2 linked regions of the Homo sapiens genome follow. The protein of the gene in region 1 purifies or fractionates together with the protein of each later gene. This does not show direct contact. Each region holds a gene or a part of one and is shown on either strand. Other genes may lie near its edges.

Region 1 (3,661 bases):
AATAAAGCTTATTAGGGAAAAGAAGAAAGCAATTTAAAAATGATTCTAAGGTTTCAAGCATTGGTGCCAGAAATAAATAAGCTTATAAATGAAGCTAGTTTGGGGTGTAAGATTCAGTTTTGGCCAGGCGCGGTGGGTCACGCCTATAATCCCAGCACTTTGGGAGGCCGAGGCGGGCAGATCACGAGGTCAAGAGATCAAGACCATCCTGGCCAATATGATGAAACCCCGTCTTTACTAAAAATACAAAACTTAGCTGGGCATGGTGGCACGCACCTGTAATTCCAGCTACTTGGGAGGCTGAGACAGGAGAATCGCTTGAACCTAGGAAGCAGAGGTTGCAGTGAGCCGAGATTGCACCATTGCACTCCATCCTGGTGACAGAGCAAGACTCCGTCTCAACAACAACAACAAAAGATTCAGTTTTGAACACACTTTGTGAAGTCTGAAGTGGTAACCTTCAGGACAGGAAATGTCTGGGAGCAACTGGAGAACAGAAAGTTTAGTGTTCAGTGAGGTCAGGGCTGGGCAGCCATCCTCATGTATGTATCAGCTGAAGCAGTGAGAGTGGATTCTCCAAGACACAGAGTGTAGATATAAAACAGCAAGCAAATAGCATTGCTTTTAGAAAGTAGCCTTTTAATTTGATTGGAAGGATTGCCTGGGAAGGAGCACATGTGAAATGTATGGAGTGATAGAAATGTTCTATAATGTTAAAGTGTGTTACGGGCATATGCATATGTCAAATCGCATGAAATGTACACTTAAGATTTGTACATTTCACTTTATGTACTTTACCTCAATTTTTAAAAGATGTCATCAGACAAAGAGAGCAAGGTGAGAAGGACCTGATCCCATAATTCCACTGCATGCTAACTCAAATCAGGAAGTCTTTATTAAAGGCCCCATGTGCCTGTCACTGTGCTAGGCACAGCAACTTTCAAAGAGGTAGAGAACATTGTCCTTAAAGAGAGGAGCTTCCTGCAGAGCTAGGGAAAAGAGAAGGGAAAGTTAATTAACTATTTGATATATAATCAACCCCCAAAGACAGACACACACACACGCTTTATAGCGTTATTATAAAGATTAAGTGAGATGATGGATGAAGAAAGTGATCTGAAAAGCTTTTCTAAAAACTCTAAATCTGAAGTATTTATTTCTTCACCCATAAACTTAAGGTAGTAATACCTTTCATGGTTGTGCACTTAATGAGATAATATATATAAAGTGCTTGGAACTTAGTAAGTTTCAAATAGATATTAGCATCTTTTTCCCCTGGCTCAATCTTAAGTAGTAAAGAGAATTTAAAGAAGGCAAAGATAGAAAACCTATAATTATGTTCACCATGATATTATCTATAATAAGGAAAAATTAGAATTTTATTCCTATATGCTAGTAAAATGTGAAGTTTGATTTCTTCATATTTTTTATTTTCAAAATTTCTACAACCAGCATACATTATTTAAAAACAAAGTTTAACTACCTTGAAATTTATACATTAAAAACATTATAACAGAACTCCTAAAGGAAGAAAAAAATAGAAGTCCATAATTGTCTTTAAGATTAAACCTAAGGATGTTAAAAGGAACAGCATTCAAATGGTATTTGATTCGGTTTAAATCCTTTTATTTGTCCACTCTAAAACTACAGAACATCTGTTACGTGCCAAGCATTGTCTTTGGTGGTATGGATATAAAGGTCAGCAGTGTAATGACTTTATTCTGAAGGAATTCAGTCTGATGGAAAAATCATATAAACAAGGTGGTTACTATAAAACATGGTACTTCCAGTGCCAGCGATGTGAACAAGACATTTGGGGACCTCTTTTGCTTAAAGATGGTTTCCTGGAGGAGGCGAAACCCTGAGGTGAGTTTTAATTTATTCCACTCGTCTCTTTGGAAATTATTTAGACTTTTTTCTTCTGCATTTAGCTGCAGTACAGCAATGGCGATCAGAAGGTAGAACAGCTGTATGGCTGCACATTCCCATCCTCCAAAGCCGATTTATTGCCCCTGCTGCTTCCCTGGGCTTCTGCTTTCACCACGCAGAATCGGATTCATCAACGTTGACTCTGTGGCTGAGAGAAGGGCCCAGCAGATTACCAGGATATGCTTCACATCAAGTAGGAGTTGCAGGTCAGTTTCAAACTCATGATGAGCAGAATTAACTTTTTAGACGTTCACCCAATTTCTTGCTTGTTACAGCTAAGCAAATAGTTTATTCATGTGGAATGAGTTATTTGATTAAATGATTACGGTGGTTCCACCCTATCTGCACAGGATGTGTTCCAAGACCCCCAGTGGGCACCTGTAACCGCAGATAGTACCAAACCCTATGTATATATACCATGTTTTTTCCTATCACACATATTTATGATAAAGTTTAACTTATAAGTTAGGCACAGTAAGAGATTAACAGTAACTAACAATAAATTAGAACAGTTATAAAAGTATAGTGTAATAAAAGTTATGTGAATGTGGTCTCTCTCAAAATATTGTTTTGTATTCACCCTTTTGTATTCACCTGCACGATGAGGTGAAGTGAGGTGAATGACAGGCATTATGACCTAAATGGAAAATTCCAGAAAAAAACTCTTAAGTTTTAAATTGCATGCTGTTCTGAGTAATGTGATGAAATCTCTCACCATCCTGCTCTGTCCCACCAGGCCGTGAATCTTCCCCATATCCAGTGTATCCATGATCCATAGGCTACCTATCCATTAGTTACTTAGTAGCCTTCCCTGTTATCAGATCAGCTGTCCCAGTATCACAGTACTTGGATTCAAATAACCCTTATTTTCCTTATTAATGCCCCGAAGCACAAGAGTAGTGATGTAACACTTCGAGACTATGGTTGACCTTGTATAACTGAAATCACAGAAAGCAAAACTGGACAAGGGGGACTACAGTATCTATTACATAGTGCTTTTAAATAGGACTATTACATAGTGCTTTTAAATAGATGAAGTTTGCCTCAATCAGTAGACAGACGCACAGAGAACAACTTTAGTGTTTAGTTTTCCAAAGGATATGCTTGAATATATTTTACACATATAATTAAACTTCACTACTCAAATAGTAGCACTGAATTGGGATCAGGGAATAAATTTATTGCAGAGTAAAACATGTTGGCACTAATTATGTAAATTTGTAAAGTAAATGATCATTTTTATGTTGAATTTCAGGTAAAGCAAACCAATTTTTCAATGATTTGAACAATTACTTCTTAATAATATTTACATTATTGTGCCAAACAGTTGTTTAAAATCGTGTAATTTAAGTGTAGAGTAGAATTTTGAAGTGGCTGATTAGCTTCAGAGACATAGGAAAGTTGAGAGAAGACTTCCCTCAGAGTAAGACACAGATTCTCACATTGTAGATTGCATCAAAATCACCTGGAATCTTAAAACAGATTGCTGGGCCCTATCCCCAGAGTTTCTGATTCAGTAGGTCTATGGTGGGACCTGAAAATTCAGGTGATCTTCCTGGCTGTTTCTGTTTTTGCTGCTGCTGCTGCTGCTGGTGGTGGTCTCAGTACTACCCTTTAAGGACCAAAATTCTTAGATTTCTAGAAAAACTATAATAGTAAGGGATCCTTATGACCTTAATAAATGAAAGCAATGAAGCATATTAGTTATTTAATTAATAATTTTATTTGCCTT
Region 2 (3,661 bases), on another chromosome or scaffold:
AATACTAGGGTATCTTGTGATAACATTGAATATAATCTGATTTTCAGAGGTTGTCTTAACCCACTTCAAATAGTAACTCCTTTCTGGCTTTCCTGACCTTCCACCTCTTAAGACAGAATTTCTGATTTTTTACAGACTTTTGATAATAGAATCATCACAATGCTGTGTAAAAACATACAGGATCCATTTTTTTTTTTTGTAATTTCAGCACCTGATACCATATTGCATGTTTGCATTAGATTGTGTATACATTTAATCTTTTCTCTTTTTCTCTCTTTTTTGGGAATGCTTTCTTTGTGTCAAGCACTATGTTACCTAATAATAAACTATAACTAACATAAATAAATTGCAGTGTTATTACTACAAATAATTTGCAAATCAAAAGTCCAGCAATGTGAATTAATTTTGAATAGTAGTTGGGTAATTCTGACTACCTGGATTTTCTTACTTTAGCAATAATAACAAAAGTAATTTCAAATGATTTTTTATTTCCTAGTGTGACTGTGAAATACTATGGAAAAGCATCTCATTCTGCTTCTTATCCCTGGGAAGGATTAAATGCATTAGATGCTGCTGTGCTGGCCTATAACAATCTGTCTGTGTTCAGACAGCAAATGAAACCAACCTGGAGAGTTCATGGTATGAATGTCAAATACCTTCTATAATAGATGGTGCTTGCTATAGTTCAGTGCAGTATAATTATTTAATATTCAATTTTTAAAAATTTGGAAATATTTTTGTACTTCATATGAATATTCTGATTTTTAAGCATATTTTCAGAAATTCATGTGACAGGATACTAAGATGTTTGTCTATATAGGGTTAGAAAGACAGTTTTGATTATTGTACATAAATGGAATGTCATCTTTGAGTATCAAAGATAAAGGTTTTATGTAAGGGGCTGTGTTCTTTCGGTGGGTGTTTGAAAATTGGATCTTGATTTTCCAGTTGTCCTCATTATTTCTTAATGATAACCAAATTTTGTCAATTAAAAAAAGGTATAATAACTGCTAGTTTTATTTAAGTGCTGTTAGTCCTGAGTAATATCTTTTTGTGTGATTTTTTGTTTTTGAGACAGTCTTGCTCTATTGCCCAGGCTGGAGTGCAGTGGTGCAATCTCGGCTCACTGCAACTTCTGCTTCCTGGGTTCAAGTGATGCTCCTGCTTCAGCCTCCCAAATAGCTGGGATTACAGGCAGGCAGACACCACCAAACCCAGCTAATATTTGTATTTTTTGCAGAGACGGGGTCTTGCTATGTTGGCCAGGCTGGTCTCAAACTCCTGGCCTTAAGTGATCTGCCCACCTCAGCCTCCCAAAGTGCTGGGATTACAGGTGTGAGCCACCATGCCTGGTCCTGAATAGTGTCTTTTAAAATTATATATATATATCACCATAATATAAATACAGTCAAAGTACTGTCTTGAAGGCACACATTTGTTTAATTTATTTCCTTATGATTTAGGAAATTGTTATATTTTAATATCTATTCTTTACCTGATTTTGCTATAGCCTGAGGTCAATTTGTAATTGTACTTTTACCAGTTTTCCTGCTTTAGTTTCTTTAAAAGGAACAAACAGGAATGTGTAGAAATATTTTTTTAAAGTAGGTCATAGGACATTGGATTTTTTGTATCTATTTTAGTTATTACTTCGAATGAATAAATCTTAATTCTTTATAATTCCAAATAAATACATTTGTTTTGACAGTTGATAATACTTAGTGATCTTTGACCTGCATTGGTTTTTTTCTTGGCATGAAAATTATTTTTCCTATAGCTAAATGCCATTTAAAATGCTCATGGGATTCCTGAGGTATGAGGGTAATTATAGAACCTCATACCATTGTTGAGGTATGGTAAAATCTTTTCCAGAAAGCTTAAGATGTTACTAATTTTTTTTGTGGTTATATAATTTCTAAGTTTCATTATAGTCTGGATCATAATTTCTTAACATTATGTAAATTCTTCTGAATGAAGTGCATATGGATAATTATTTTTTCTTATCAGCCAAAAAATATCACCCTATGTAAAGAAATTTCAGTTGTACAACATAACAAAATCTTTGATTGGTGTATTGGTGGAGCTAGTGAGTTTAAATTATTTTTCTTTATGAACATATTGGCTGAAAAACTTAATGGGTGTATTTAAGCTTAAAGAAATGGTCACCAAGCTTAATTCTAGTAATTTGGTTCTTTTTATAGGTATAATAAAAAATGGTGGTGTAAAACCCAATATCATTCCCTCTTATTCTGAATTAATCTATTACTTCCGTGCACCCTCAATGAAAGAACTTCAAGTTTTGACCAAAAAGGCAGAAGATTGCTTCAGAGCTGCAGCTTTGGCTTCAGGGTGCACAGTAAGAACTTTTAAAAGTTAATCTAAGTTACAATCAGAGGTATATATGTGGGCTAGCACTGTTAGATTGAAATCTAACTTGACTCTCTTATTTGGTGACATGTTGAATATGCAAAATGAATTGGCTGAATAGTTAATGTGAAAGTCTTTAATTTTTACACGTTTCATTCCTCAGTGCTTGCAATAGGGAAGATGACAGGTCATCTTACTTATATAGTAATTAGAATAATTCTGATACTTCTATGCTAGAATCCCTGCCTTTTTACAAGTTATATTCTTCCTTGTCGGCAGTTATACTTTTAGAATTGCTATATGTAGTTTCTATAAAGGAAAGTTTATGGCAAAATCAGCAAAAGCTTTTTTTTTTTTTTTTTTTTTTTTTTTGGTGGGGGGACAGGGTGTTGCTCTATTGCCCAGGCTGGAGTTGCAGCGGCACGATCTTGGCTCACTACAACCTCCGCCTTCCAGGCTGAAGCAATCCTCTCACCTCTGCCTCCCACCTCAGCCAGCTGAGTAGCTGGGACTACAGGCACGCACCACCACACGTGGCTAATTTTTTGTATGTTTTTCTGGAGACAGGGTCTCACCATGTTGCCCAGGCTGGTCTCAAACTCCTGAGCTCAAGTGATCCACCCACCTCGGCCTTCTAAAGTGCTGGGATTATAGGCATGAACCACCTCGCCCAGCCAGCGAAAGCCATTTCTGAAGTTAGGGTGTGTATAGTAGTGATATAAATACTATGGCTTGCTGGAATGGAAGATAAAATAGACACAGAAGTTAGTTAAGAGGTTTTATTGATTTGTTTCTGTTTGTTTGTTTGTTTTTGAGACAAAGTCTTGCTCTATTGCCCAGGCTGGAGCGCAGTGGTGCAATTTTGGCTCAACGCAACCTCCTCTGCCTCCTGGGTTCAAGCGATTCTTATGCCTCAGCCTTCCAAGTAGCTGGGACTACAGGCGCTTGCCACCACACCTGGCTAATTTTTTTTTTTCTTTTTTTTTTTTGAGGCGGAGTCTTGCCCTGTCACCCAGGCTGGAGTGCAATGGCGCAATCTCAGCTCACTGCAACCTCTGCCTCCCAGGTTCAAACAATTCTCCTGCCTCAGCCTCCTGAGTAGCTGGGATTACAGGCGCCTGCCTCCACACCCAGCTATTTTTTTGTATCTTTAGTAGAGACGAGGTTTCATCATGTTGGCCAGGCTGGTCTCGAACTCCTGACCTTGTGATCCACCCACCTCAGCCTCCCAAAGTGCTGGAATTACAGGTGTGAGCCACCACACTGACTGGTTTTGTTGATTTGAACTATAAAG

Evidence for each region. Proteins that work in one complex are often made in the same cells at the same time.
Region 2: the proteins of NUDT6 (region 1) and PM20D2 purify together in Homo sapiens (affinity purification with mass spectrometry; 2 studies listed by BioGRID and IntAct, with this or other methods). This does not show direct contact.

What each region holds. Positions count from the first base shown.
Region 1 is NC_000004.12:122,915,975-122,919,635, reverse strand, and holds part of NUDT6 (nucleoside diphosphate-linked moiety X motif 6), read left to right. Parts: intron 1-1,931; coding exon 1,932-2,135; intron 2,136-3,661. UniProt on the Homo sapiens protein: May contribute to the regulation of cell proliferation.
Region 2 is NC_000006.12:89,152,547-89,156,207, forward strand, and holds part of PM20D2 (xaa-Arg dipeptidase), read left to right. Parts: intron 1-496; coding exon 497-639; exon of another isoform or gene 640-643; intron 644-2,201; coding exon 2,202-2,356; intron 2,357-3,661. UniProt on the Homo sapiens protein: Catalyzes the peptide bond hydrolysis in dipeptides having basic amino acids lysine, ornithine or arginine at C-terminus. Postulated to function in a metabolite repair mechanism by eliminating alternate dipeptide by-products formed during carnosine synthesis.